Homo sapiens: one gene and its partner. The protein of the gene in region 1 interacts with the protein of each later gene in a pairwise test. Each region holds a gene or a part of one and is shown on either strand. Other genes may lie near its edges. The genes, in order: NDRG2 and CLN8.

What was found.
Region 2: the proteins of NDRG2 (region 1) and CLN8 interact in a two-hybrid assay, tested with the Homo sapiens proteins (one study listed by BioGRID).

Annotation. Positions count from the first base shown.
Region 1 is NC_000014.9:21,017,307-21,033,657, reverse strand, and holds the start of NDRG2 (protein NDRG2), read left to right. Parts: upstream 1-8,596; 5' UTR 8,597-9,628; exon of another isoform or gene 9,629-9,682; intron 9,683-10,150; exon of another isoform or gene 10,151-10,336; coding exon of another isoform or gene 10,337-10,342; coding exon 10,343-10,417; intron 10,418-10,752; coding exon 10,753-10,794; intron 10,795-11,160; coding exon 11,161-11,266; intron 11,267-11,475; coding exon 11,476-11,596; intron 11,597-11,778; coding exon 11,779-11,841; intron 11,842-12,813; coding exon 12,814-12,874; intron 12,875-13,075; coding exon 13,076-13,162; intron 13,163-13,681; coding exon 13,682-13,738; intron 13,739-13,915; coding exon 13,916-14,019; intron 14,020-14,497; coding exon 14,498-14,542; intron 14,543-14,843; coding exon 14,844-14,895; intron 14,896-14,994; coding exon of another isoform or gene 14,995-15,031; intron 15,032-15,136; coding exon of another isoform or gene 15,137-15,153; coding exon 15,154-15,201; intron 15,202-15,418; coding exon 15,419-15,454; intron 15,455-15,619; coding exon 15,620-15,671; intron 15,672-15,895; coding exon 15,896-16,062; 3' UTR 16,063-16,351. Other genes in the region: TPPP2 (tubulin polymerization-promoting protein family member 2), read right to left, coding at 1,581-1,766, 2,493-2,646, 2,904-3,076. UniProt on the Homo sapiens protein: Contributes to the regulation of the Wnt signaling pathway. Down-regulates CTNNB1-mediated transcriptional activation of target genes, such as CCND1, and may thereby act as tumor suppressor. May be involved in dendritic cell and neuron differentiation.
Region 2 is NC_000008.11:1,780,776-1,795,570, forward strand, and holds the end of CLN8 (protein CLN8), read left to right. Parts: 3' UTR 1-5,795; downstream 5,796-14,795. UniProt on the Homo sapiens protein: Could play a role in cell proliferation during neuronal differentiation and in protection against cell death.

The DNA of each region.
Region 1 (16,351 bases):
TGCAAAGTGGTGCTATCTTCTAGGTTCTTTCCAGCTTGTTTACCCCCTCTTCGCCCCCACCTCCTCATCATCCTTCCTCTCCCAGAGACAGTAAAACCCACCCAAGAAGTTGACTGTGTCCAGTTGGCAGTGACTGTCCACCCACTGGGCCAGATCCTAAGTCCTGGATGGAGGCCCAGGGCCTCAGCTCACACCATGGCAACAGGCACCAGCTCCGAGTCTCACCTCCCCATCCCCACCAGCCTTCTCATGTCAGCCTCCCCCAGTTCCCTTATAATTCCCTCCACTCACCCACCTACTCAGGGGATATGGCTAGCTATAGGAACCTCCCTGAGGCCCTCAGACTCATGTTAGCCTCACTTCCCCACAACCCCCAGTTTCCAGCCTGCTTCTCTCTGTGAAATCATGGTTTCTCCCTTCATATAACTGTCCTCTCCTGCTTCCTCTTACCATGGAGCCTAGGACTGTCTCCCCCACACTCCCAACAACCGTAGTCACCCTGCCTTCCTTTTTCCAACCTCTTTTTCTTCCAGTCTTCTTACCTTGGCTCACTGGCATTTCAAGGTATCTTCTCTCACCCATTCCCCAGAGGTTCCTGCTTCCCTTCTCTTCCAGAAGCTCCTCCCAAATCCCCCAGACTCCAGAGTCTGCCCCTGACCAGGCAGCGAATGAGGCAGGCCCGGCTCTAATCGAACATAAATTTCTAAAACCACATCTGAGTATGTAAGATGTAACCATTGGGGGAAACTGGGTGAAGGGCACACGAGCCCCCTCTGTACCATTTTTTGTAACTTCCTGTCAACCCATAATCAATTCAAAATAAAAAGTTAATAACACACATCTGACTCTGTTGTGATTTAATTGCTTTTTCTTCAGTGCACCAGAACTCCTGCTCTTGGAATCCTGGCAGCCTGCCTCATCTGGCCATCTTCCTGAGCTACCCTTAGCAGTCAGTAAGCTCTTCTGTCCCATGTGCCCCATGATGGAGGTGATGTGGGGTAAAACTTAGTTCTGGGCTGGGTGTTGAAAATAGACTCTCCCCTTACCCCAGCTCTGGAACAAATTTGTAATAGAAGTCAGGCAACCTTAGCTGGCTTCTACTCCTCCACCCAAAAAACCTGAATTGCAACAGATGAGGAAGGTGGAGGGACAGGGAAGGATCTAATATGTGATATAGTCATAGTCCATCACGTGAGGAATTGCTACACCCTTTTGAGGGGTGGGGGTGGAGAGGTGGATATCAGTAATGTGTGAACACAAGTAGTAGATACTTTTACCTCCACATCTGGTTCATCTCTTTACTCCAAATATATTCTTCCATCCTGTTCTTGGAAGCAGCTGTTGAGGAGGAATGCTAACTGATGGCTGGTAGGCATAAGGCTAAGCAGAGCGAAGGGTGTGTGGTGGAGAACCCACCCTCCTGTGCTGCCTCTTCTCCCTCTCTCTACACTAGTAGGCTCATCTGTCCCTCACAGACAGAGATTTTGGCTGCTGCACACACAGATGTTTATTGTTTTCCAAGCTCCCTGGTGTTAAACATGCAGGGTCAGGGGGCTAGCAGGCTGAGATGAAGCTCCTCTCTACTTGGTCTTCTTATCGTAGGTGCCAGAACCCTTGTAACCACTCACATAGCCTGTGTTGTCAGTCATCTCTTCCCGTCCCGCAATGCCCTTGCCCTTGCCACTCTCATCAAAGCGCTCCTTGTGGGTGCCGGTGTACTTGCTGGTGTCTGTCAAACGGTCCACTGCACCCACTGTTGTTGCTTTCTGCAAGCCAGGGATGGATTTGAGCTCTCTTCCTTTCCTTACGCTGTCATATCCCTTCCCCAAAGATGGCCCGAGATACTTAGAACAAGTGCTTGGAGCTCTTGCTCTGCCACTGGCATGGGGTGCTGCTTTCTTAGGGCCCAGATACAGCTGTGGGCAGGTACTCTGGTAAGAGCCGTTCACTCATGGGGGAGGAGGAGTGTGGTGTGGGAATGAGTGTGGCGTGTGCAGAGGGAGGGTAGGTTTTTTGTTTCCAGAGGAGTTATTCTGACTAGGCTGCTGCCTGAGGACTTCACTCCCACTCCCCGACTCAATATCCACTGTAGAAAGAGCTTTTAGTTCAGACAGGACAATTAAAAAAGGGAGTAGGTGAGAGGCAGGAGGCCTGAGATTAAACCCTAAATAAGAATTGGAAGAGGAGTGGGCATCAGGTACCAAATTCTCTACACTAATGTCCTCCAAAAGCTACCAAGCCCTAATTGCCTGGCTCAGATACTAGACACTTGGAAATTAGTCTAAATCTACTATTAAAATAGCCATGGACCTTGGGCAAGTCACTTCCCTTCTCTGGGCCACATTTTCCTGACTTCTGGAATGTCTAGATGATCTCTAAAGTCTGTTTCGGCCCTGTCTCTACAGTCACACAGTTGGCAGGGTTAGGGAGGGTAGACTGGAACAATGGGGATTTAGGGAAGTAGGGTCAAGGGGATGAAGGCTGTCACTCACAGTAGCGCCAGTGGTGGCTGGGTCTTTGCCCTCCATGAGTCCATAAATGTTCTCCAGGACTTCATCTGGACTCTTCCCTTTGAAGCGCTTCTGGCCCAGTTCCTTCACTGCCTCTTTGAACTGTTGAAACGTGATGGTTCGGGCGTTCTTGGCCCTGGTCAGTTAGACAGAAATCCAGAAACTTTGGAGCATGAATGCATTACCTTCCAAGGTCCAACTCTTGCCTCACTCAGATTTGGCCTCTTTTGTCCTATCAATCAGTGAGTGTCTCGAAGACAAAGGATAGCACAGCGCCAGGTACCCTGTGGTGCTTGGTAGGCCCACTGCAAATGTTCCACCACGTGAACCCTTCCGTGGCCAACTACCTCGCAGGTTCTTCTCACCCCCACCTCCATATTTTTGGCTCCTCACTTGACTTTGCTGAACACGATGTCCACGTCCGTGGAGGTGACTGTCTTGCCATCCATGATGCCACAGTCTTTGCACAGCTTGGAGAAGTTCTTGTTGTTCATTTCAGTGCCACTGCTTGATGATTCTCCAAACGCAGCAAACCGATGGAATGTTTTTTCTGCCTCTGATGCCATGGTCAGCTAGAGGTCGGGGAGGGCAGTCGTGGGAGACACTTGGGGGTGAAGGAGAAGGGGGAGGGAGGACTGTGGAGTAATGAGGATGAGTGTTATGGTAAAATCAGTCAGCAACAGGAACAGCTCCCCTCTTCCCTGTTGCTCTCTCCTTTCTCCCTCCCAGCTCCCATTGCACCTACGCAACTACAGCATGAGTCTCCCATTCCCAGCATTGGAGATACCAGTGTGGATCCTACCTACTGAATGATCCTCTCTTTCCCCTACCTCTTTTATGTACCTTAGAGTACCCGGATGGTGGTCTGACCCTTCCCGGCCTTTGTATTTAAGTGTGTGCAGATATGTGGGAGCCGGTTGGCTGTGGCAATGAGGAGACAGAGGGAGGAGAGGGAAGATTCTATGACCTCAGCAGTGGTTATGTGACATCACTTCTGGCCCCAGCTACAGCCATTGCCTTCAAAGGAGGGGGCTTTTGGTCTCCCTACCTTGCATGCCGAATTGAGCAAACTGCCAACTTTCTGACCTTTTCAGATGATCACATTTCCATCATTTCAGCCAAGCTTACCCATCCTCTGGGTCCTAGTCAAATTGCCTTATGCTCTGCCCCACAACAGAAGCTGAGGCGAGCCCAGGGAAGGTGTTGTAGTCTGTTTGGGCTGCTAGAACAAAATATCAAACTGGGTGGCTTATAAACAACAGACATTTATTTCTCAGAGCTCTGAAGGCTGAGAAGTCTAAGATCAAGGTGCTGGCAGATTCAGTGTTTGGTGAGGGCTGCTTTCCGGTCCATAGATGGCACCTTCTTGCTGTGTCCTCACATGGTAGAAGGGGTGAATGAGTTCCCTTGGGCCTATTTATAAGGGTATGAATCCCATTCAGAAAGGCTCTGCCCTCATAAAACTTAATCACCCCCCAAAATGCCCCATCTCCTAATACCATGACTTTGGGAGTTAGGATTTTATTTTATTTATTTGCGTATTTATTTTGAGATGGAGTCTCGCTGTCTGTTGCCCAGGCTGAAATGCAGTGGCATGATCCTGGGGCACTGCAACCTCCAGTCCCAGGATTCAAGCGACTCTCATGCCTCAGCCTCCCCAGTAGCTGGGATTAGCCCAGCCACTATGCCTGGCTAATTTTTGCATTTTTAGTAGAGACGGGGTTTTGCCATGTTGGCCAGGCTGGTTTCGAACTCCTGACCTCAAGTGATCCACCTGCCTCAGCCTCCCAAAGTGCTGGGATTACAGGTGTGACCCACTGCGTCCAGCCGGGAGTTAGGATTTTAATATATGAATCTGTGGACAACATAAACATTCAGACCACAGCAGTTAATGAAAACGGATTAATGAAAACAGGCTGTCATGTTTTCTAGTCTCCAGGCTCAAGTGTAGCATGGAGAATCCCACTGGCTTTAAAAGGCCAGTCGCAATAGAAACATTAAATAGCTTCCAGTGTTGGGCCCAGCAAGCCTTGGAGTATAACAGATGTGGACAGGTCAGGATAAAACTGGGATAGACTGAGGGTGAGGCTCAGATTCTGAAAATCTTCAGATAAGTTTCTATGCAGGTCAAAGATGTTCCTCAGGGTTTTCTCTCTTCGGCCTTTTCTCTGGCCAGAAGCACTACAGATAGATGAACCTCACGGATCCTAAAACAGAGCAACGAGACTGGTGACTTTCCTCCTTTTCCCATCTAATAATGCCACCACTTTCTATTTTTTTTCTTTGTCTTACAAATCTATGCCTTTCTTTCCATTCCTATTGCTTCCACCCTTATTCAAGTTCTTATCATCTCATAGTTGGATGACTACTCTGGTTTCTAAATGATCTCTTTTCTAAATCTAATTCTTCACTCCCACCCACCCATAATCCATCTCTATTACCTCCTCCCCATCAGATTAATTTTCACAAAACAGTATTTTTTATTACTCCTGCTCAAGAATATTCTGTGGCTCAAGATATACTATAGCTTCTCATTGCTAAATCTTTTTGCTTAGCATTCAAGGACCTATACAACTAACTAGGCCCCAATCTACCCTACCAAACATCACCCACCTCTCATCAACATTATTCTTGGGCAGGGCACAGTGGCTCATGCCTATAATTCCAGCACTTTGGGAGGCCAACAAAGTGAGACCTTGTCTCTAGATAAATAAATAATAATAAAAAAATTAGTTGGGAGTGGTGGCATGCACCTGTAGTCCCAGCTACTGAGGAGGCTGAAGTGGGAGGATTGCTTGAGCCCGGGAGTTTGGGGCTGCAGTGAACTAGGATTGTGTCAGCGCACTCCCACCTGGCTGACAGAGAGACCCCATCTCAAAAACAAAACAAAACAAAACAAAACAAAAAGAACCCCAAGAAACAAAAAACCTAAGAACCAGATTATTCTGCAGCTGGGGTCATATGGCCTAATTGCTATACACTTGACAGGCTACTTGGGAGTGGAAGGAGCATAGTCCCTGGAGTGGAATGGACCGGGGTGGGGAAATGAATCCTAGATATGTCATTTACTAGCTGAGTGGACTTGGGCAACTCACTAAACATTTCTGAGTTTCAATTTTCTCATCTGTACAGTGAGGACGATAACACTAACCTTACGGTATTAGGGGATAATACATGGGAAGCTACTATTCAGTTCTCCAAAGTAACCTGAATGTTTCTGCCTCCAAACTGTCCTTCATGCTCTCTCTGTGCCTGGATAGAATGCCCCTCACTCCCACTCAAGTATTCCATGGTTGCACTTCTCATTTGGTGGTTCATCCTAGGAACAAAGCCCTTTTCCTTCTCTGAATTATAGTAAGATAATGATTTCTAGACTGTGGGCCACAGCCTCCTGGCGTGAGGATTTCTGAAATCTTGCAAAGGGCCCTAGAATCTGTATGTATAAAGAGTGAGTGTGAACTGAGTAAATAATATGCCTTGCATGTGTAGGTATTACCGCATTTACAGATGTTGTGACAGAAACTTACTTCAAAGTATTGATGAATTCATAGTTTGCATTTTCTCCATCAGGGGATACTATACCTATTATGTGGGGTTGGAAATCTCTAATCTCCCACTTGAGAAGGGTGGGAAACTACTGCTATAGGACTTACTGTCCAAATGATTGATCTTATATATAACTTGTCCTGTGTTTGTACCTTCTCTTGACAAATGTCAAAATGTCATTTCTCATCACAAATGTCTAGAGAGGGTGTGACCAGATGCACACTTTGAATTTCATCTACACAGTGGCTTGCACATAACAGATACTTAAAACTGTTGCTTACTTGAAGGTATAGTGTGAAGCTGCTCTGGCCAAAGGGAAAGAGTTTAGACAGAGATTGTCCTTGCAACACTTACACCCTGGTTGGGCTGGGAGCTGCCCTGACATGGAAGAACCATATCTTAGGGGAGAACCAGCCTTACTTCTGCCTGCAGCAGGCTGGGTGGGACCCCAAGGTCTAGGAAGCCAATGGATGTCAGTGGAAATTTCCCATCTCCTGCCTGCCCTGCGCCCCTGCGTAGGCCCCTTATCAGGTTCCCCCTGAGTCATCCTGACCCAGAGACGAATTTAGATGCTGGAACCTTCAGGTCCTTCCCTCCCCCACTCCAAGTAAGACGACTTTTGACAAAGAAAAGCCTGCAGGCAAAAGTTCTCACTCGAGGCTCTCCCTCTCCCCAGGTTCCTCTGGTGCTGATGAGATCTCTCCTGTCTTGCGCACCTTTGGCTGTGACCCTTATTCCAGCAGGCTTTTCCTTGTCCAGGAGAGTGTTAAACTGGCATCCAGAGGGAAGAGGGGACTAGGAGAGGAGCCAGGGTGCCCAGCTTCTGTGCCAGTTTCTGGGGAAAAAGTTATAAAGGGAGTGGGAGAAAGGAACAGAAGAAAAGTTGGGTGCTCCAAATTGGGGGATGTAGGGGGAGCTCCTTAGATTTGGGGTTGTTGAAGGCTGGGTTTTAGCCCGACCAGTTTTCCTACTGTGGGTCACCTCCTCCCTCTTGGCCTCTCCTTCTTTCCAGTAGACCCTGCCAAGTGGGGATGAAAGGGGCATTGATGTTCCTTGGATGGGAGGGGTATTGCGGGTGGTGAGGGTGGTGGTGGGAGGGTGGTTCCCAGGCAGGAGGGGGCAGGGAAACTTGGGGGTCTTGGGGGGGCAGTCGGTGCTGGTGTTGCAGTTGGCAGCTCAAGTTCCATTGGCCATTGTTCCTGACTGGCCTGGCGCCCAGCCCCCGAAATGGCAACTCAGGAACCAGTCTGAAGGGGGTTGGGGTGGATATGATCCTGGGATTGGGGGAGCTACAAGGGGGGCAGGTGGGGAGAAATTCAGTCAGGTTTCCTTTTGCCTAAACAACTTCGAATTCCCTTAAGCCACATTTTTAATCAACTAACTCATTCCAGGGAGCCTTCCTCCGAGGGGCACAAGGAGAGCTCATTCCAGGGTGTGTGTGTGTGTGTGCGTGTGCGTGTGTGTGTAAAGTCTACAGTGGCAAACCCACTCGGGCACCGAGAGGGACGCGGCAGACCCTGAGACCATCCCCCGGGCATTGCGATTCAGCGGGCCTGAGCTGGTCTCCTATTCTGGGCCGGACTGGGAGGGGTTAGCGGCGAAGCCACAGGGTCTCTTGGGTCCCAGCCCAGGACACTGCGTCCTCCCCAAGCCCCTACTCCACCCCCGCAGGGTTAACTCCGCCCCTGCGCCTGTTTACCCAGGAGTCAGAGCCTCTGGGGGTCCCCGGCCCCTCCCCCGCGCCCCTTGAGGCATTGACCCCAGAGTCCCTGTTGGCCATCCTCTCCCCACCCCCCGCCTGCCCGCGATCGCCCTCTATTTATAGCGGCCCCCCGCATTCCCCGCCCCCACCTCCCCGCCTTGTTGTCCAACTTCTCCCGGAGCAGCCGGAGAGCAGGCGTCGGGACGCAGCAAAGAGAGGAGAGGTACCAGGACTCTGGGCACGAGGGAGTCGGAACTCCTGCGCCCTCGACGTTCCCCCGTGCCCCCTTTCGGCGCCAGCACACCTGCCCCTGCCAGCCGGCGAGACCCCCGCCTCCTCAGCGGCGGTCCCGCCCACCTCCTCCTTTCTTAATCTAGTTCTCTGTGTTCGGGCGGGGGGAGTCGAACTCGTGGGGTGTCAGTATCCCGGGTTCGTCTCCCCACTACCGGTTCCCACCACTGAGTCTGGGGGCGAAGGAAGGAGCCAGAGTGCAATTGCAGATCCAGGTCGTGGATGGGGCGGTGCTGAGGGCAGCCGAGGGATCCCTCTCAGGGCTGAGGGATCCCCGCACTCCCCACACCGCCCCAATGCGGGGAGGGGGTGGTGGAATGTTTTGGTGAGCCGAGCAGAGCCTGGAAGCGTCCAGCCGCCCGCCCCTCGCCCCCCGGCCCCAGCACAACCCTTTCCTGAGCGGCAGTCTGGGCGGGGTGAAAGGGGGGGCGTGTTTACTGGGGGTCTGGGGCGGGTCTGCGGGGAGCCTAGCGCCCGTGGGCGGGCTGGGGCGGGCCGGGGGCGGGTCTGCGGGAAGCCCGAGCCGGGGCGGGCCCGAGTCAAAGGCAAGTGAAGGTGGAAGCGGCCGCGGCGGCAGCAGGTAGGGGGAGGGGCAGGCGAGGGGCCGTAGGGCCTGGAAGGCGCCAGCCGGGCCGGCGGGCGGTGTGATTGATCCGCGTCCCCTGGAGCTGGAGGCTCGGGGGAAAGGGCCAGCACGGAGCGGGCGCTCGGTTGCTGCGCACAAAGGCTGAGGCTCCAAGAGCTGCAGGGCGTGTTTGGGGTGCGCGCGAGGTTGTGTGCAAGGTCCGGGGCGCTTGGCACCGGCCACGCAAGGGTGTCAGTCTCCACGCGGACGGGCTGCGTAGGGACTCGTAGGGACGGGTTCCGGGTGCTGGGCCCGGCCGGTCTCCTCTGTCCTACCCATCCCTTCCCGATGGCGCTTGCCTTCGCGGGCCGTCGGGGGAGAACGGGAGAAGATTGTGGGACCGCTCTCCTCTCCCTTTCTCCACTCGTGGGACCTACACGGAGACTGAGTAGAGGAGAGAAGCGACGGCACCAATCTTTGTGTTTGTTTTTAAATTGTGGAGGGAAACAGCCATGCTCTGCTACCCTCCTCTTACTGGAGAGCTGTCAAAAATTTTGGGGATCCCCTATTCCCCCGCGTTTAGTCCCCCTGCAGATAGAAAATTGAGGCCAAATGTAGTAACTAACTGGGGCAAGGTCACACTGGGAGTGGCAGAGCCGGGATTCGAATCCGGAGGTTCTGACAGGGCCACCCTCTTACCTCCACATCAGCACTTCCTTCTCTCCTCCGCGCAGCCTGAACTGATGCCCTTGTAGCCTATATTGATTCCGGCTCGAGCCTAGAGAGGACGTGTTCTCTGGACTTAGGGGTAGACAGACACTGGGGAGGGTTAGTGACCCGAGGAGGTTGATGACCCTGGGAGTCTGGGTCTTGGCTGAGGCTTTCCGTCCCTGAAAGACCCCAGGTCTGTCTCCCATGTCATTCACCTCGTTGCTGTGTTTTCTCAGACCCCAGAGTCAGAAGGAGTGAGAACCCTGACCCCTAATCCCACTGCATCCAGCCAATAGGAGCCCAGTAAGTGACCCCACCCCGCAGGCTGCAGGCTCCTTCCTGTGCAGGTCTGTCCAGGTGCTCTGCTCCTCACCCACTAATGTTGAACTTGCGGAGTTTATTCAGAGTTGGGAGGAAGGGTCTTGGGAGGAAGGGAGGCATTGGGTTGGTTGGACAGATGTCCCTTTTATGTTGTTTTCCCCACCTCCCCCATTGGTCATGTTGCTTTGGTCATTTTTAGCCCCCTTTGAGCTGCCGACTTTGGGGCTTTAATTGAAGGTCATGGTCAATTGTGAACTCTCACAGTCCCGTCTTTTGGTACCCTGTCCTTTAGAATACTCAGTCACTGAGCTACAAGTTTCACTCCCTACCTGAGAGTGTGGGGTGGCCCCTAAATATAGCCCGAGAAATCTGAGCTACACTTCTGCCCCACCCTGGTATTTTGGTCCAGGGCAGAGGAGGGAGGGGTCTGGAGGTGTGGTGTTGAGGGTGGCAGTGGGGATGGTGAGTATCAAGAGAAGGGCTGTCCTGATTCCTCTTCCAAAGCTTCCACCGATCAGCCTGGAAACGGAGCTGGGGGCAGGAAAGGCCCTCTGTGTGTTCTAGAGTAGTCTTCAACCCCTGGGTCCCTCTGTTCCCTGCATCTTCCTGTGCTGAGAGAGGAAGCCTGGTGTTTGAGGCGATGTGGGGATGTAGAGACAACTTCCCAGTCTCATTTCCTCATCCTGCCAGGCCACCATGGCGGAGCTGCAGGAGGTGCAGATCACAGAGGAGAAGCCACTGTTGCCAGGACAGACGCCTGAGGCGGCCAAGGTTATTAGAGACCGTTTGACTCCCATGCCCAAATTCCAGACCTCTAAGCATCCCCCTTGCCTTCTAACTTCCCAAGCGTACTGATCTTATTCTAACTCACACCACTGCTTCACCACTACCCTAGTCTCTCTCCCCATACACTATAATTGGGAGTCAGGCCCTTGTCTCGTCACTACACTAACCTTCATCCTTTCCGTGTCTCTCTTTGTCAATCTCTTTCTGTCTTTGGTCATTTGTTGGTCTGTCTTTACTTGCCTCTCTTTGTCTGTTTGTCTCTCCATCTGGGACGCCACATGGTCATGTGTTTCTGTGTGAATCCGTGTGTGTCTCTCCAGGAGGCTGAGTTAGCTGCCCGAATCCTCCTGGACCAGGGACAGGTAACAGTGTGGGGGCAGTCCCAAGGTGGGAGGAGGGGCTGTCCTCTTCCCCAGTAGAAGGATGGCCTCTGCTTGGCCCTCTCTTCTCTCTTTGCTTTCTTTCCTTCTATTCTAGTCCTTTCCCTTCCCTATCTCTCCCCTCTCCTTCCTTCCCCTCCTCTTCTCTCTCTAATCTTCATTATTCTTTCTTATCCTCAAACTCATCTTCCGGTATCATGTTTTCCTCAATTCTTGCTGATCCTGTTTTTAATTCTTTGTTCCCTTTTCCCTCTTGCCCACCCACTCCCAGCTCCCTGACCTTGGTGTTGCTCCTTTTCTGGCCTCGTCTCCTCTGAGCCTAGCTCTTGGTGCCCTGTTTTCCTGCAGACTCACTCTGTGGAGACACCATACGGCTCTGTCACTTTCACTGTCTATGGCACCCCCAAACCCAAACGCCCAGCGATCCTTACCTACCACGATGTGGGACTCAACTGTAAGGACCTTCATTCATCTCCCACTCCTGTCTGGGAAGAGGCTGTGGGGGAAGGGTAGAAATGAAACCCAGAGGGAGGGGAGGGGTCAGTGTGGGAAGGAGAAGTTCTCTCCTGGTCTGACTGTGGCATGAAAGGAAGGGTGAGTTCTGACTGGGGGACACGAGTCCCTGTCTGATTCTATTGTTGAGGTGATGTGGGTTCTCTTTAGATAAATCTTGCTTCCAGCCACTGTTTCAGTTCGAGGACATGCAGGAAATCATTCAGAACTTTGTGCGGGTTCATGTGGATGCCCCTGGAATGGAAGAGGGAGCCCCTGTGTTCCCTTTGGGGTAAGAGTTAGGTCGTTACTGCTTCACCAGACTGTGAGGAACAGGACAGGTGCGGGAAAGGTTCGACTGGGGAGGAGGAAAGGGAGGGCAGTGGTTATTCTGGGAGAGAATGAGTAGGACATCCTGAGGTGGGGGGTGTGAGGGCAGGTTGGTATCTTCCTTAACATGCCTCTCTTTTCCAGATATCAGTACCCATCTCTGGACCAGCTTGCAGACATGATCCCTTGCGTCCTGCAGTACCTAAAGTGAGAGGCCTGGGAACCCCTCCAAACCAGAGTTCTCTTTCCAGCACAAGGAGACCCTTAGAACTTCCAGGTTCACCGTGGTTCCTGAGCCAGTTTCAGCTTCTGAACTCAATATATCTTCTTCCTTCATGCTCCCGCCTTGATTATTGAGAAAAGGTGGTGGGTTTGGAAAATTGGCCAGAGTCAACAGAATAGCCCTAATGGGTGGAGGGAAGGAAAAGGGTCTATGCTTGGCCCTGCCTCAGGCTAAGGAGGGCCTTCTCTGATCAGAAAGTCAGGGAGGAATGAAAGGGGGTGACATAATCCCTGAGGAACCAGATAGACCTGTCTCTTTCTCTCCCACTCCCCTCTCCTTCATGCCCACACCTGGTGGATGGGGAGCTCTGCGGGTGAGAGAGAGTTGGGGAAGGAAGAGAACACCAGACCAAGTGTCTTTGGTATTCAGAGGGAGGTGCTGGCCCCTGGGTGCTGTTCTTAGCTAAGCTTCTCCTAGGCACCAGGGCTCAGCAGCTCTGGTTCACCACTTTGCCACTCTTTTCCTCATTCTCTCCATTGTTCACTAAAATTGTGTCTGTTTTCACATTTGCTTTAAGTTCCATTCTTCCCGTTCCTCTAGAGGAACCAGGAACTAAAGCAGAACAAGTTGAACTGGCTCTTGAAAATTGAGAATGGACAAAGAGCTATCTATATGGGAAAACAGTGTGTTGGTTGGCTGGTGGATGGGTGTTTGTTTTTAAGACACTAGCTCTCCAGCAGAAAGCTGGGGATAGACTTCAGGTATCTACCCTGACTACCCGTGCCAACCTTTGGCTTCTTGGGCCCTTCTTTTTCGCGTCCTCCAAAGAAAGGTCCGTGTCTGCCTTTCTTTGTGCCCGTGGACTCAGGAGGGAGGGTGAAGAGTTTGAAGAGATGGGCTGTGGCAGGTTTTGGACAGCAGATCCCATGAGGCGTATATTTCTTTCCCTTTCACAGTTTCTCTACAATAATTGGAGTTGGTGTTGGAGCTGGAGCCTACATCCTGGCGAGATATGCTGTAAGAAATAAAAAGCCCAGAGGAGGGAAAGGAGGGTCCAGACTGATTAGGAGAATACTGTTTATTAGTGCTGTTTGGGGGAGGAAGTGGGCACTAGGTGGGGAGTCAGGCCCTGTGGGAGTCCAGGAGTGGGTCGAGCTTAGCGGGGAGGGGATAAGGCCATGCCCTGTTTCTCATTTCCTTCCTTCTGCTGTCCCTCAGCTTAACCACCCGGACACTGTTGAAGGTCTTGTCCTCATCAACATTGATCCCAATGCCAAGGGTTGGATGGATTGGGCAGCCCACAAGGTTTGGAGGGGCCTGTGTGCTGAGACCTACGGTTGGGGATCCCCTCGTATGGATCCAGTTAGGCTCTGGTAGATAGCCTAACTGGATGGACTCTGAACTTCAAGGAGGGAGTAAAGGGGCAGGAAAGTGAAGCTGTCACTTTGCCTGAGTCTCTTATAATATCCTGAACTTTCTTTTTCTTTTTCTTTTTTTTTTTTTTTTTGAGATGGTGTCTCACTCTGTTGCCAAGGCTGGAGTGCAGTGGCTTGATCTTGGCTCACTGCAACCTCTGCTTCCTGGGTTCAAGTGATTCTCCTGCCTCAGCCTCCCAAGTAGCTGGGATTACAGGCACCCGCCACCACGCCTGGCTAATATTTGTATTATTAGTAGAGATGGGGTTTCACCATCTTGGCCAGGGTGGTCTTGAACTCCTGACCTCGTGATCCACCCGCCTCGGCCTCCCAAAGTGCTGGGATTACAGACGTGAGCCACTGTGCCTGGCCAATACCCTGAACTTTCTCACCTGCCTTCTCCTCATAGCTAACAGGCCTCACCTCTTCCATTCCGGAGATGATCCTTGGACATCTTTTCAGCCAGGTAAGTGGGTGTAGGAGATGTAGAAGAGTCGACGGGAGCAGCAGGGAACTTGAATGCTTGGGCTAACTTCCTTAGCTGGGACAGGATTTGGGGAAGGAAGAAGGCTTACCTCTTTTCCTCCAGTAATTGTTGTTTTCTCTTTCCATCCCTAATTTTTCTCCTTGTTCTCTCCTTCAGGAAGAGCTCTCTGGAAATTCTGAGTTGATACAAAAGTACAGAAATATCATTACACATGCACCCAACCTGGATAACATTGAATTGTACTGGAACAGCTACAACAAGTGGGTGGGCTGTGTGTGTATGCATGTGAGAGAAATGCAGAAGCAGTAATTGGGCGTCATGGGGGAGGCACAGAGGAGGAGAGGGAAGTCTGGGTAGTGTGCAATGTGCAAGGAATGCAGCATTTAGTGTGCAATGGGGGCAGCTTCAGGACAGAGTCAGTGGGAAGGATTGCAAGGGGCTGTCCCCCTTCTCTTGTTTACCTCCTTTGGATTATTGGACTCCCAGAAGTAAGATGATCTTGTGTCCTGTGTCCTTCCTCCCCTTTTGTTGCCCTCTGACCAGGGATCTAGGGCACAAGTGACTATAGGGGCTGTGCTTGGGGCCTGCCTGCCCCTTTCTCCTTTGGTTTCCACCTTTAATAACCAAGATTTGACCGTAATTTTTAGACAAAGATAGTTCCATCATGGGAGAGATAGCTTATATCTGGTTAGATAGCATTGCCCACCTAAAATTCCTACTCTTTTAACCCCTTTCTAGCCGCCGAGACCTGAACTTTGAGCGTGGAGGTGATATCACCCTCAGGTAAGACTTTAAGAGATAATGCATTGCCTGTCTCCCTGGATCTTCCCTAGGAGCTTGTGTCCCTTAGAAGAAGGAGAATCTTTTGCCAGGGAACTTCCTTGTCATGTCCCACCCCATCCTATTTGGTAAATCACTTCCCTCTAGGTCTTCCCCCTTTGAATCCTCTTGGTGGCATCAGCAGGGAGACACAGAAGTGTCTTTCCTCTTTGGAGCCAGATATTTTTCCAGCTGCACTCCTAGGCAGAGGCCAGTGAGGGAGTGCCAGGGGCTCACTGCCTTCTCCCCAACACTGTGTCTTTAGGTGTCCTGTGATGCTGGTGGTAGGAGACCAAGCACCTCATGAAGATGCAGTGGTTAGTAGGGAATTTTGGGGTGAGTGAGGGAGGAGGGTTGGGGTCCTAAAGTGGTGGTCAGAAGAGTATCTTGCCAAGGGGATGTCCTGTTTGGCACAGGGAGATCAACTTTGGGGCACTAAGAATTTGATTCCTGGTAAGGAGGAACTGGGTAGGGAGCTGATAGAAAAGGGACTGGGGTCTGGGTTCCTGGGTCCCTTACGGGGGAGGCGCCACAGTGGGCGTGACCTCATTCATTCAGCCTCCTGCTTACTCCAGGTGGAATGTAACTCAAAACTGGACCCCACCCAGACCTCGTTCCTCAAGGTCAGTAACCTGTTCCTGGGCCCCCGTCCACAGTCATATATCCTCTCTACATGCAGCTGCTAAGCCTCCAGGGCCCGGCATGGGAGCAAATGGGGTGAACGAAGAACAAAACAAAGGGGCTAGAGTGAAGAAGCTAGGGAAGAGAGACCCTTTCCACCTCTCTGCATGGCTCATTTATGTGTGTTTCACTTTTTCTGGGTGGTGCTCTCCTGAACAGATGGCTGACTCCGGAGGTCAGCCCCAGCTGACTCAGGTGAGTGCCGCTGCCGTCCATGGGATGGGGAAGGGACATAGGATACCGGTGGCACTGGGCTCTGCCCTTTGCCACACACCCGGCCCCACAGTGCCGCAGCCTCAGGCTCCAGCTCTTCCTCTAACCTCATCTCACCGTCTCCCTCGCCTCTTCTTACTTCCGCAGCCAGGCAAGCTGACCGAGGCCTTCAAGTACTTCCTGCAAGGCATGGGCTACAGTGAGTATCGGGACAAGAGCTTGCTGCACTAGAGGAGAGATAGGCACTGACGGGGTGGAACCGTTTTAGGTGAATGCCTGGACTCACCGCTATCTGCCCAATCGAGCTCGTTGATCCCCTGGCTTAGTTATAACTAGTCCATAATCCAAGGACCACACCCTGAGTCGCCAGCCCCCCTTCCCCACTTCCTCTCTGACTGCTTGTGCATCGTGCTGTCTCCACAGTGGCCTCATCCTGCATGACTCGCCTGTCCCGGTCTCGTACAGCCTCTCTGACCAGTGCAGCATCCGTTGATGGCAACCGGTCCCGCTCTCGCACCCTGTCCCAGAGCAGCGAGTCTGGAACTCTTTCTTCGGGGCCCCCGGGGCACACCATGGAGGTCTCCTGTTGAATGGCCCTTGTTGCCCTAGAGTGGGACCCAGCCCTCACCTCCCCCAGAGCTAACCTGGGAGGTGCTGAAGGGGCATTGGGCCACCGTAAGCAAGGGAAAAAGGGCAGATCATGCGGGGAGATGACCTTGATCTTTGATTGCTACCCTAACCTTGACCTTTAACCCGTGATTCCCCCCAGCTCCTGGAAGAGATGTCCTAATATCTCTTAGGGACCCAGACCCCTAAATTCTCCTCCTCCCCCATTTTGATGTTAAGGTGGAGAGGGCATATGCATCCTCTGTCCTGATC
Region 2 (14,795 bases), on another chromosome or scaffold:
TCTGTCAGTTTAGCCGCGCCGGACCGTGTCAAGCATCTAGGAGAGGAGTCCATGGTGTCCAGGCATCGGGGCGTCACACCTGTTGAGGAGTGGGGTGGCTTTGAATGCTGGAAATGGCTTCATAGTGAAGTGCCTCCCACAGGGCGGGTGGGTCAGCGTTGACTCTTTCCAGCTGCACACTCATATGCCGTGTGTCTTATTCAGAAGTCACATTCTTTTCAGTTGGAGAGAATTGGGCTAAGATAGAAAATAACATGATTTGTTCCTTATTAAAGCTTCCCAGCGTATGAAATTCTAAGCTGGGTGGGGTGGCTCACACCCGACGTAATCCCAGCACGTTGGGAGGCCGAGGCAGGTGGATCACTTGAGGCCAGGAGTTCGAGACCAGCCTGGTCAAGATGGTGAAACCCCATCTCTACTAAAATTACAAAAATTAGCCGGGTGTCGTGGCACACACCTGTAATCCCAGCTATTTGGGAGGCCAAGGCAGGAGAATTGCCTGAACCCGGGAGGCGGAGGTTGCAGTGAGCTGAGATCGCACCACTGCACTCCAGCACTCCAGCCTGGGTGACAGAGCAAGACTCTCTCTCAAAAAAAAAAAAAAAAAAAAATTCTAGACCGAAGTGTACGGCAGTGCCATCTGGTGGCAAGTGGTACAAAGACAACGCTGAGGGGTAGTGACTCCTGTAGCAGCAGAGACGCCTTGGAGTTTAACCCCCACCAACCAGAGCGTGGGCTGGTAAAGATGAAATCTTGCAAGTTTTTTTTTTTTTTAAATCATGGTACCTGTTTTAAAATGAGAAGTTATTATTCATACTGTGTTGCTCATTTGACAAAATAAGGTAAGGATTTCATAATCAGGTTGTCTGGGTTTCAGAGCTGTTTTTAATTGACTGAGTTACCTACAGGCACCCAATCTAGACCCTAATTCTGTGGTTGGTGTTCCTCTGTAGATTTCAAGACAAGTAGTGATGTCATTTTCTCCCTGAGCTGTAGGGTGGACCTGGACCCCTCAGAGATGCTCGACTGCAGGGTCCTGGGGTCCCTAGAGTGGTCCTGCAGCAGCCCCTGGCAATGAGCTGCCTGATGATGAGTCCCAAGGTACATTGTTCTACTGTTTTATACCCAGGTAGAAGTTACACAGCAATTTAGCAATGTTGTTAACAGACATACAGAATTGTGTGTGTGTGTGTGTGTGTGTGTGTGAGTGTTTTGATATAAACGTGCAATTAAAATTCAAAGTTTATTTTTTATCACAAGCACCTTTGAAATGTACGTGGAAAACGTCGGCTGCTCGTGAGAATCATGTGTGACTTACGTTCCTTATGTTTTATGGAACTCTCGGAACAGTGTTTTGTTTTTGTTTAGTTTTTGTTTTCGTTTTTTTGAGACGGAGCCTGGCTTTGGCTCCCAGGCTGGAGTCCAGTGGTGTGATCTCGGCTCACTGCAACCTCCACCTCCCGGGTTCCAGGGATTCTCCTGCCTCACCCTTTCAAGTAGCTGGGATTACAGGTACCTCTACCATGCCTGGCTGATTTTTTGTATTTTTAGTAGAGACAGGGTTTCACCATGTTGGCCAGGCTGGTCTCTGACTCCTGACTAAAAGTGATCTGCCCACCTCGGCCTCCCAAAGTTCTGGGATTACGGGCGTGAGCCACTTCACCCGGCCCGGAGCGGTGTATTTTGATTGCTGGTGCTTTAACTATATTGACCAAGGTGTATAGTAACCTATTTATCACATTTTACGAAGCAATTTTAATCTTAAACACATCCAGCAAATGGTGTCCCTGCTGAAACTTTTAACTGGAAACCTCACACCTGGCAGGCAGCACTCTCTGCAGCCGTGCCCTTGTGGAGTCAGCAGGAGCTGGTGTTTTTCAGCCAGACAGAGGCATAATAAAGTGACTGATGTTTACAGAACCCAAATGATGTCTTCCTCTCTCTCAAAATAAACTAACCTATTCATATTGCTGTGAATGCTTTATCTTGGAGATAGAAAATATAATGATAAATTCATCATGTGTTCAGAATTCGATTTGGAGTTGGAAGTGGACAGCCTAATTTTTATCTCACCTCCACTAGGACTTTGACCTTCCCAGGGGTCCACACTTTACCTCCTGTATCTTCATACGCGTGTGTGGATGCATAGAGATGGAGGTGCTGTAGAGAAGCACAGGCTCACCCGCTCCGTCCAGTGTCACCCACACATTGGTCCGGGGACCCCTCAGTGCAGAGCCTGAAGTTGGGGGTTTAGGGGTGGAAAAGGCTTCGTGAAATGTTAATGATGCGTACACCTTCCAGATGGCACAGCACTTTCCCATGGTCCTCACTGGCCTCAGTCTCCCTGACCGGCAGTGTGAGGGGATGTAGCTATAGTGGAGCATGGTACAAGCGACATTCATGAGCTCTGACTTCTTGGTGCCAGGTTGGTGTGAGCCTGGGCCCGGCCCACTCAGCGGCCCACATTGGCCAGCATTCAGCTGCACGTGTGTGCTGCGTGCTTCACATCCTCTATTGAGAGTTACAGCAAGTGTTAAACGAGGTGAGTTCACATAACAGGAATTCTGGAACTGCTTGAAAACTAGGACGATTGGGCAATATCGGCCTTAACTCCACCTGATGGCAGGTGACCCGGATAGAAAATGGCCCTGCGTTTAGCCAGGATGTGGCTCTCCAGCTTGGCTTCAGTGTGATCACTTGTCAGTGCGCTTTCTCTTTCGATAGTGAAATCCTTCTCTATACCTATGTTTTGTTTTGTTTCTTAAGTTGGGAAACAGAATGGGCCAGGGAGGTTGAGTGACTGAAGACCAAGGGTTGGTGCAGCCTCCTCGCCGCGCTGCGGGGGCTGGGCCGCACAGGCTTCTGCCCTTCTCGGTGTCCAGGCTCCTTGGGTGATGCTGGAGTTGTCATGGCCGCAGTTCAGTGTGAGATTTTTTACCAGGTATTGCGCTTAAGGGACATGATTTTCCATTTTCTTCGCCCGGACAACTTGAATGAAATGGGCACTGTTGATTCCACTTCTGTCGAGGAGCTTCGGGGCTCAGAGAGGTGATGACGTGCCCAAGGTGACGCAACTCGTGAACAGCCGTGCCTGCCTTGGGCGCAGCCTCCGGCGCCAGAGCTGGGCTCTTCAACACGGCATTTAGCGCAGAAAGTCGTGGTTCAGGCAGTATGGGCCGCTGTGACAAAACACCTAAGACTGGGTAGTTTATAAAGAACAGACATTCAGGCCAGGCACGGTGACTCACGCCTGTAATCCCAGCACTTTGGGAGGCCGAGGCGGGTGGATCATTTGAGGTCAGGAGTTTGAAACCAGCCTGGCCAACATGGTGAAACCCCATCTCTACTAAAAAAACAAAACTAGCTGGGGGTGGTGGTGCATGCCTGTGGTCCCAGCTACTTGGGAGGCTAAGGTAGAAGAATTGCTTGAACCTGGGAGGCAGAGATTGCAGTGAGCCGAGATCACGCCATTGCACTCCAGCCTGGGTGACACAGTGAGACTCCATCTCAAAAAAAAAAAAAGAACGGACATCATTTCTCACAGTTCTGGAGGCTGGAAGTCCAAGATAAAGGTGTGGGCTGATTAGTTTCTGCTGGGAACACTGCATCCTCACGTGGTGGAGGGGATGGAAGGTCAACAGGCCTCAGCTAGTTCTCCGCTGCCTTTTTATGAGGCATTAAGCCATTTGCAAGAGTAGGGGGCCCCACCTCTTAATACCACCGCAATGACAATTACAATGTCATGTGAATTCTGGAGGGGACACGGTCACACTGCAGCATCAGCACCCGGTGAATGTGGTTCTCTTCCCATGTCCGAATTTTGTGAGCTCCACACGGGCAGGGTTGCATCTGTTTTATTCTCTGATTGATTCTAAGCCCCATGTCCCTGGCACAGGATGGCTGCTTGGCAGTAGGGAGTGGATGAACCAGTAGTACCCAGGGCTGCCAGGCAGGGCCCTGCAGGGGACAGACCCAAGGGCTGATATGGGGACACCTGCTGAGGGGGGAATTTACCACGGTAAGGGCAGGGCTGGGAGGCTGGGCAGCCAGTTTCACCCTCGCACAGGCTGCCTGGCAAGACCAGCGGCTGGAGGTGATGTCCTCAGTAGAGAACGGTGGCCACTGGAAACGTGTGGCCAGAAGGGGAAACGCTCGGGCCTCTGGTGGGGGCCAGCCTGGGGTGGGGTCGGCCAGGGTCAGCTGCCTTTCCTTCATGCTGGGGAGGAGATGTTGTGTGCATGTGAGAAAGCATTTGATAGCATGCCAAAAGTTTCCTCCATTATGTGCGTGTCAAGTGTTTGACCAGGTCAGAACTCTTGTTCTATGCGAATGTGCTCACGCAGACAGAAGCGGAGGGGCTCCGTCGCTCTGCCCTCACGCCGCTGAACCGCGAGGGTCTCCCGCTCCTCAGGCTTGCGGCTCGGCCGCGAAGTGTGTCAGGTGTGCATCCTGGGTGCTCCTTTGTGCTCTGTCCTACGGTGACACAGGCGGCGTGGGGTTAGACAGGTACCGGTCAGACTACGGTGACACAGGCGGCGTGCGGTTAGACAGGTACCGGTCAGATTACGGTGGCACAGGCGGCGTGGGGTTAGACAGGTACCGGTCAGATTACGGTGGCACAGGCGGCGTGGGGTTAGACAGGTACCGGTCAGATTACGGTGGCACAGGCGGCGTGGGGTTAGACAGGTACCGGTCAGATTACGGTGGCACAGGCGGCGTGGGGTTAGACAGGTACCGGTCAGATTACGGTGGCACAGGCAGCGTGGGGTTAGACAGGTACCGGTCAGATTACGGTGGCACAGGCGGCGTGGGGTTAGACAGGTACCGGTCAGATTACGGTGGCACAGGCGGCGTGGGGTTAGACAGGTACCGGTCAGATTACGGTGACACAGGCGGCGTGGGGTTAGACAGGTACCGGTCAGATTACGGTGGCACAGGCTGCGTGGGGTTAGACAGGTACCGGTCAGATTACGGTGGCACAGGCGGCGTGGGGTTAGACAGGTACTGGTCAGATGCACGGGCTCCCTAAACCCCTGCTGTGGCTTCGGCAGTAAAGACAGGACGCACCCATGTCACAAGAGGAGCACAGGCAGGGGTGTTGGTGTTGGGGCAGCCCTCAGGGTCTCCAGACCCCAGCCCCACTCACACAGCAGCCTAGGAAGGAAGGGCAGAGTCCCAGGTGTCAGCTGGTGGGTCTCCCAGGAGCTGCCCCTCCCTGGAAGTCACAGGACAGGAATGACAGATCAGGGAACTGCAGGAAGCTGCCACCTCTGGGGTCAGAATATGCCCAGCCTGCGGGGGCTCTCTATCGGGGTCTTCGAGAGCCAGACAGCCTGCCTTGTGCTGCATACCTGGCTTTGCTCTGTGCAGAACCCAGCACACGTGATTTTGTGTGACATGCCAGCAGCCTGGCTCCCAGGACAGGAGGCCTGCCCTGGGGGAGGGGCTGCAGGAGGAGGGGGGGCAGGCACCCATGAGTCTGTCCAGCCTTGTCACAGATGCATCGCCCACCCTGCGGTCCTGATTTCAGCTCACCTCAGAGTAAATCAGAATAAACTGCACCCAGACTTTCACGAATGCATGTTGACGCTTTCAGTTCACCCCTTTCTTTGCTAACTTTCTTCCTATTTTCTTCTAATGCGAGAGCTTATTAATTCCATATTTATCATTTTGAATAACTTTTCTCCTTTTTAGTAACAAAATGTACTTCACTCTTAGTAAAATGTATTTACTATTTTAGTAACAAAAATATACTTGCCTAATCATGTTTAAAATATAGTGATGTGAAAAATTCAGACGTCTCTATTTCCTTTCTTCCGATGACTCAACCCCAAATGTCTGGAATTGATTCCGAGGTATCCAGGACCCACAGCCAGCCATCCAAGAGGAAAAAGAAACCACACCCTTCCTTCTGGGAACCTGGCCAGGAACCCCAGAGCACAGGCGCCTGGCCTTAGTGACACTTCTTTTCCACATCTGCAGGCCCATGGAGTGAATTCATTTCTTTTCTCTCTGCATGTATTTTGCTTTTACCGTTGTGCTGTTTCACGCTTGGCAGCCTCAGTTAGCACTCCAGCCCGCCTGAAGCCGTGCACAGCCCATTCCTGCAGGGTTTGATACCTGCAACCTCAAACCCATCAAAAGAGTCCAAAAATTAAACCAAAGTTAAAATCCTCCATTATTACAGAAAGTTATTAAATGTCAAGTCTCAATCTGAAAAGTTTCTGCCAAAACTTTACATAAAAAACTTTTTTTTTTTAATTTAAAACAGGTTCTCTCTATCGGCCAGGCGTGGAGTGCAGTGGCGTGATCGTGGCTCACTGTAACCTTAAACTCTTAGGCATAAGTGATCCTCTTGCCTCAGCCTCCAAAGTAGCTAGGATCACAGGCGCATGTCACCATGCCTAGCTAATTTTTAAATTTGTTGTGTAGAAATGGGGTCTTGCTGTCTGGCTCAGGTTGGTCTCAAACTCCTGGGCTCAGGCAGTCCTCCCATACTGGCCTCCCAAAGTGCTGGAATTACAGGCATGAGCCACCGTGCCTGGCCTACACAGAAAAGTTTTATAGTCCTTGTAACGTTCACGTTTTCTGTGTTGTTTTTCAAAAATCATATGGGAAATGCAAAATCCCAATTGGAACACAGTGCATTTTAGCTGCTGTTTCATTTGTTGCAAGGAATTTCCAAGCATATCTGGTCAACCCCAGAGATTTTGTTTCCACACAAAACAATCACGGAGCACAGAACGTTAGAGCCATAGAGTGGTTTTGTGGCAACAGCCAAAGCTTAGAAAGGTGGAGGCCACCATGCGATATTCCCATTGTGTGTTTTCTGTAATTTCAGATTATCTCAAATAGAAAGCACGCAGCCCTTAAAAAAATAAAGCTCAGGAAAAATCTCATTTGCTAAATGTGGCTTTTTACATTTTAATTTGGAACTAGTTGCAGGACTGGAATTGCATTCTGCCAGCGTCGGTCCCTGGTCAGCCAGTCCTCTGCCAGCTGGTGTCTGTCTTCTGGCCCTTGGCATGCACACAGCACAGTTCTGGCCACTGAGAAGGGGAGGGCTTGCAGCTGAGTGCGTTTGCCTTTGCAAGTGAAGGCAAGCCTGGATTGAGGACACCTTCCCGCCCCTTCCTGCCTCCTTTTTCCTTGAAATACAGTCCCGATGCCTATAGGGGCACCTGCCGTTGGCACCATGAGGGGCAGGCATGAGGATCCACATCCACACTCAGGCATGGGAAGCAACGAGTGGCACAGCCCTGGGCCACCAGCCTGGGGTCCCATCACGCAAGGAAAACACCGGCCTGACCGCAAAAGTGAAGGAAACGCCCCACCTGCCGTGTTCACCTTTACCCTTTCTCACAGACGTTCCTAAACACACAGGATGAAGGTGTTAACCTGCTAACCATGTTAACCACGTGAATGATAGAAAGCTCTCCCTAGGAGACACTTACGGTTTGCAACTGTGGACTTTTAAAAATCATCTTGGCTGGGAGGGGAGACAGAGTGGAGGGGCTGGACTCGCCGCCTGCATCTCAGATGCTGCAGCTTCAAAAGGAGGCTTCCTGGTTTAAAGGAAGTTGCTCTGTTCCGTTTTATTTTTGTTTTTAGCTTCTTATTTTGAACTAATTTCAAACTTACAGAAATTTGAGGGGGAAAAAAGAACAAATCTTCCATATACTCTTTATCCCTATTTATCTATTTTTAACTTTTTGCCACGTTTGTCATAGCAGTGTCTCTTCCCTTTCCCACTGTCTCTGTCCCTCTCCTTGCCTCTTCCTCTTTCTTTCTTTCCCCTACGTTACTTTATATCCCTTACCCCTTAATACTTTCGTGTTTATTGGCTGGGTACAGTGGCTCACATCTGTCATCCCTGCACTTTGGGAGGCTGAGGCGGGTGGATCACCTGATGCCAGGAGTTCGAAACCAGCCTGGCCAACATGGTGAAATCCCATCTCTACTAAAAATACAAAAAATTAACCAGGTGCACACCTGTAATCCCAGCTACTAGGGAAGCTGAGGCAGGAGAATTGCTTGAACCCGGGAGGTGGAGGTTGCAGTGAGCTGAAATCACGCAATCTCATTCCAGCCTGGGTGACAGAGTGAGACTGTGTCTAAAAAAAAAATAAAAAATTCAATGTTTATTTCCTAAGAATAATGATATTCTCTTATGTAACCACATAAGCTATCAATTCAAGAAATGTAACATGGAGCCAGTACCTTTTATCTCATCTACCGTTTTCATTCCAACTTTGACGGTTTCTTTCCTATCCTTTTTTTTCTTGGTCCAGGACGGAGTACCAGATCACATGCTCTGTTTAGTAATCATATCTCTTTATTCTTCTTTAACCTGCTGCAGTTCTTCAGCCTGTCTTTGTCTTTAACAGCAGTGATATTTCTGAACAAATACCAGCTGGTTATATTAAAGAATGCCCTCAATTTGGTTTGGTCTGGTATTTTGTCAGGATGGAATTCGAGTTATATATTTCTGGCTGGAGTGCTCTGTAAACGGTGTCCTTGAGATATCAAACACAGAGACGTCTGTCAGCTTGCCCTGATTGGCAATGTTAATTTTGGTCCCTGATAAGGTGGTTCCTCCTCTGAACAGTCACTGATTTTCCTCGTCCTTGGGTATATTGCGGGAGATCTGCTGAGGCTGAGAACGCCCTGTCTGCACATAAAGCTGCCTCCTGCCCCAAGCTGGCCTCACTGGCACCAAGTCACGTTTGCACTCAGTTGGGTCAACCTTCACGGTGATGGCTCAATATTGCTAATTTTCCAACTCCGTCACTTCTTACTGCATTCTATAAAGAAGGGCTACTTTCTTCCCAGTGTTTGTTTATTATCCCTGTGGGTTCTTGGATTCTCTGTTTGGCAACGGTATTCTATTTATAGTGGGTTATAATTGATTGTTGTTGTGATGTTGCTGCTCCCGTTGTTCCAGGTTTGCTGTGGGGGTCTCTTCAGGCTGTTGAATCGTCCTTCTTTGTACCAGTCCTTGTTTTGAGCACATCCTTATTTTCTTTTTTCTTTTTTTTTTTTACATGTCTGCATTTCTTTTTATTATTATTATTATTTTTATTTTACTTTAAGTTCGAGGGTACATGCGCACAATGTGCAGGTTTGTTACATATGCATGTGCCATGTTGGTGTGCTGCACCCATTAACTCGTCATTTACATTCGGTATATCTCCCAATGCTATCCCTCCCCCTCCCCCCACCCCACGACACGCCCCGGTGTGTGATGTTCCCCTTTCTGTGTCCAAGTCTTCTCATTGTTCAATTCCCACCTATGAGTGAGAACAATGCGGTGTTTGGTTTTCTATCCTTGTGATAGTTTTATCAGAATGATGGTTTCCAACTTCATCCATGTCCCTGCAAAGGACACGAACTCATCCTTTTTTATGGCTGCATAGTATTCCGTGGTGTATATGGAGCACGTCCTTCTTTCTTTTCTTTTCTTTCTTGCTTTTTTTTTTTTGTGACAGAGTCTCACTCTGTTGCCAGGCTGGAGTGCAGTGGCGGCTCACTGCAACCTCTGCCTCCTGGGTTCAAGCGATTCTCCTGCCTCAGCTTTCCAAGTAGCTGGGACTACAGTCATGTGCCACCATGTCTGGGTAATTTTTGTATTTTTAGTGCAGATGGAGTTTCACTTTGTTGGCCAGGATGGTCTCGATCTCTTGACCTTGTGATCCGCCTGCGTCGCCCTCCCAAAGTGCTGGGATTGAAGGCGTGAGCCACGCACCTGGCCACGTCCTTATTTTGTATGCAGCAGACACACGCCTTCTCTGCCGTGTGGTTGGATCCAGCCCTTTCTCTGAGAATTCTGGTTCTTTTTAGTGAGGAATGGAATTTAGAAGTTAAGATGTGGGTGGGAGATGTGCTCATTGCTCATGGGCCATCAGAACCTCCACACCCTTCTACCTCTGCTGCAACCCAGCCCCACGGCACTTCCTTGCCTGCCTCATTCCTGTGCATCCCGTCTTGCATGGTGACGACCCCGGCTCACAACAGCAGAGACAGCATCACGCATGGCTCAAACACGCTGTAACACAGAGCAGGTTTGGAATGGCTCCACCCACAGGGCCACAAGAAACAAACCCATGGAGAGTTCCAGATCTGTTTGCAGCTTTTTTCTTTAGTCTGAGGGTATGCAGTCAAAGTGCTGTCTCCAAAAATTACTTAAATTTGTTTTGTCCCGACTCCCCTTCAGATGATGGCTAATCATTTGACAGACACTTGGGTTCCTTTGTTGGCATTCTGTTGTAGCATTTTCCCCGATTCTTGATAATTTTATTATTTGAATATGTAAAATGTCATGATTCCAAAAGTTAAAACTATTCAAAAAGCTGTGCCCAGAGAAATGTCTTCTCCTCTCTATTTCTCCTGCCCTGTTTTCTCCAAAAGGAACCAGTTCGTTTATTTTAACAGCTTTCCTGAACTATAATTCATATACCATAAAATTCACCCGTTTAAAGTGTATTTAGTGTTTTTTAGTATTCATGGAATTGTGAAACCACCGCAATCAATTTTAGAACATTTTTATCACCTAAAAAAAAAAAAAAAAGTATTTGTCCCCATTAGTAGCTATTACCCATTTCCCGCCCCCCGACCCTCACTCCCGCCCCCCCTCCCCCCGCCCCGCCCCAGTCCTCCTCCCTGACCTTAGGCAACTGCTATCTTTTTGTCTCTATGGATTTGCCCATTCTGGACATTTCCTATAAGGGGAATCATACAATACATAGCCTTGTGCAGCTGGCTTCTCTCACACAGCACCATGTTTTCAAGGTTCATCCGTGTTGTAGCGTGTACCAGTTCTTTATTCCCTTTTATTGCCAAATCATACCCCATCGTATGGATTGACCACATTTTATGTAGCTGTCCATCAGTTGATGGCCATTTGCGTCATCTGCCCTTTTTGGCTGTTATGAACAGTTCTGGGATGAACATCATGTGCATGTTTTTGTGGGGACATAGGCGTCCCCTCTCTTATGTATTCCGCTAGGAATGGAACTGCTGGGTCCCACTGCTGGTTAGATGCTGAGGAACTGCCAGACCGTTTCACGAAGCACCTGCACTCTTGGCTGCTTTACGCTCCCTTCAGTGCGTGAGGGTTCCGGGCTCGGCACATCCTCAGCAGCCCTTGTTACTGCCCATCTGCGTCGCGACCGCCATGCTAGTGGGTGCGCGGTGGTGCCTGAGTGTGGCTTGCTTCCCATTTCCCTGATGGCTGATGACGCTGAGTGACCTCACTGGCACCTGGCCCCTTCGTGTGTCTTCCTGAGAGCAACGCCTCTTCACATCCGGTGTCCTTTTGGCCTGGTAGGGTAATTCTTTGATCGTGGAGTTGGAAGAGTTCTGGATCTATTCTGTATGCACACCACTTATGAGACACCTGGTCTGCACAGACCTCTTTGCACTCTGGGGCTTGTCTTCTCACTCTCTTGATGTTTCTAGAAGTTTCTATGTTTCTTTTGTTGTTTGTGGTTTTCGGATCATATCACAAAAGGCTTTGCCTAACCTGAGACTGCAAAGATTGACACTCATAGTTTTTTCTGAGAGTTTTCTAGTTTTACCTTTTACATTTAGGTCTTTGATCCCTTTCTAGTTTATTTTTCTACTTAGATTAGTTAACCTGTTCTAGGCCGTCTTACACATGAAATCATGCAGGATTTTTTTTACAGAAATCCTTCTTGTTACAATTTCAGCATTTATATTTTTGAAAAACATATGTCTTTCATCTATATTTCCTAACTAATGTAACATTTTTTAAAAAGTACTTTTTTATGTTAGCAAATCTCTCTATATCTGTAGGGTCTTTTGTTCTATATTTTGTTGATTTGTATCTTACTTGCTTGTTTTTTGGTTTGATTGGTCTTTTTCAAGCTCTACTTTATTAATCTTTCTAAGAAGTAGTGGTTTTTTTGGCTAATCTTTTTGATAAGTTTTTATTTGTTTCTGTCCTTATATTCATTATTTCCTTTCTTCTTGTTGTTTTCAATGTATTCAGTGTTTCTATTCAGTTTTCAGATTTTTGTATTGAATATTTTGTTTTATTTTGAAGTTTTCTTGCTTCCTGTAAATACATTAGAAATTATAAAATTTCTTTTAAGTGCTAATTTAACATTGTTTCACAAAGTGTGACATTTTTGTTTTTATTTTCATTTGGTTCTAAATATTTTGTAACCCTCTTCTGGTTTACTTTTAAACCCAAGGGATATTTAGTAATGTCATTTCCTTTCCAAAAATGTGGTATTTTAAAACTTCTATCCTTTTGTTATTTATTTCAAAATTTATTTTACTATTACATTAGAACACACTTTGTTGCTTTAGAGTTTATTGTGTTTCTTTCTTGCTAAATACATTTTTCATGATATATGATCAAATTGTGTAAACATTCTATGCATTTTTAAAAGTATAGTCTCCATCGGATGCAGAGTTCTATGTAAATATAATAATTTAGAATTTGTATGTTTCAAATCTTTGATGTCTGCTATTTTATATGTTTTAAGAAATATCTAGTATAATTGCCAACTTATGTTTTTCTCTGTAGAGTTGTGTCAGTTTTTGCTTTTTTTTTTTGAGACGGAGTCTCCTCTGTCACCAGGCTGGAGTGCAGTGGCGCAATCTCGGCTCACTGCAACTTCTGCCTCTCGGGTTCAAGTGATTCTCCTGCGTCATCCTCCCGAGTAGCTGAGATTACAGGCATGCGCCACCATGCCCAGCTAGTTTTTGTATTTTTAGTGGAGATGAGGTTTCGCCATGTTGGCCAGGCTGGTCTCGAAAACCCTTGACCTCAGGAGATCCGCCCGCCTCGGCCTCCCAAAATGCTGGGATTACAGACATGAGCCGCTGCACCCGGTCAGTTTTTGCTTTTTTAAAGAAACATGCTTAAGTACACATGTGATCATGATGGTTGCATCTTGTTCATCTGTTTCCTCTTTCAGGTGTGTAACAGCATGCTGTTCGCTGATTGCTTTGGACTTGGCAGATAGCAGGGCTACTATCTAGTTTTATATTGATTCCAATTTGCCTAGTACTTCTTTTTCTATTTATTTTAAACTTTTTAGTATCCTTTACTTTTAAATATGCTTCTCTTGGAAAACTGTTGATTCTTTCTTTATAAATCCAAGCTTCGTATTGGTGTTTTAGCTCATTAAGTTGATTGTGTCTGGTTGCAGCAGGACTTTATTTCTGCCTCCTTCATTCATAATTGGCTTTTACATTCATTTCTTTTTCCCTAAGTTTCTCCTATCGATTTTAATGGTGGTTACCTTTAGTTTAAGATCCACATCAATACATAGCTAATCGTATTGATTTCCTGAGCAGATTAATATTAAATCTTTGGACTCCCATGTTGATTCTGTTTAAATATTTACTTTTGCATTGTTGTAAATGTACTTCATCTTCTCTCCTCACTTTGGTCCTGGCCTTTTTTTTTTTTTTTTTGAGACGGAGTTTCGCTCTGTTGCCCAGGCTGGAGTGCAGTGGTGCGATCTTGGCTCACTGCAAGCTCTGCCTCCCGGGTTCACGCCATTCTCCTGCCTCAACCTCCCGAGTAGCTGAGACTACAGGCGCCCGCCACCCCGCCCAGCTAATTGTTTGTATTTTTAGTTGAGATGGAGTTTCACTGTGTTAGCCAGGATGGTCTTGATCTCCTGACCTTGTGATCCGCTCGCCTCGACCTCCCAAAGTGCTGAGATTACAGGCGTGAGCCACCGCACCTGGCTGCTCCTGGCTTTTTTAGATAACAATAGACTACTAAAATCTATTTGATCTAAAGTTTTTTATACCCATAGTTCCTATCAACATCCTCCTGGATTTATTTATCTTCTAATTTCCTTGAAGAACGTTTTCAAAGTGAGTTTTGGAAAAGTGGATCTTCTGAGGCCTTTTATATTGGAAGATAATTTGGTATGTGCTTATACTTCAGTGACAGTTGAGCTGGCTATAAAATTCTATGTCAAATTCCTTTTTTTATGTTTTATTTTATTTTATTTTATTTTATTTTATTTATTTATTTATTTTTTAGACAGAGTCTTGCTCTGTCTCCCAGGCTGGAGTGCAGTGGCATGATCTTGGCTCAGCTCACTGCAACCTCCAACTCCCTGGTTCAAGGGATTCTCCTGCCTCAGCCTGTCTAGTAGCTGGAATTACAGGCATGCGCTGCCATGCCCAGCTAATTTTTGTATTTTTAGTAGAGACGGTGTTTCACCATGTTGTCCAGGATGATCTCCATCTCCTGACCTCATGATCCACCTGCCTCGGCCTCCCAAAGTGCTGGGATTACAGGTGTGAGCCACTGCACCTGGCTTCTATGTCAAATTATTTTCCTTGAGGGCTTTAAAAATATTACTCCAGTGTCTTCTGGCACCCATTGTGGCCTCTGGAAACTCTGAAATGAAACTTACTCTTTTGTCAGTGATCTGCTCTTCTTCATAGAAACTTTTGGAATTTTCTTTGATATTCTTGAGTTTCACTGTCAATTATGGGTAAGTTTCCCATCCATCCTATTAGACACTCTCTAAGCCCTTTCAACTTGAGAGCTTTCATCTTTAATTTTTCTGATTTTACCTTTGAATATTTTTTTCTCCATTTTTATTTTTCTCTGTTCCTGGAACTCCATTATCTGTACATTTCCACTTCTTTAATTACCTTACTTACCTTTAACCATTCTTTCATACATTCTCTCTTTTCCTATTGCCTTTGGGGTGAGTTGCCTCTAGCCTGCTCATCTGGCTTTGGCTGCATTTGGCCTCATCATGTTCCTTATTTCAATTATTTCATTGGATGCT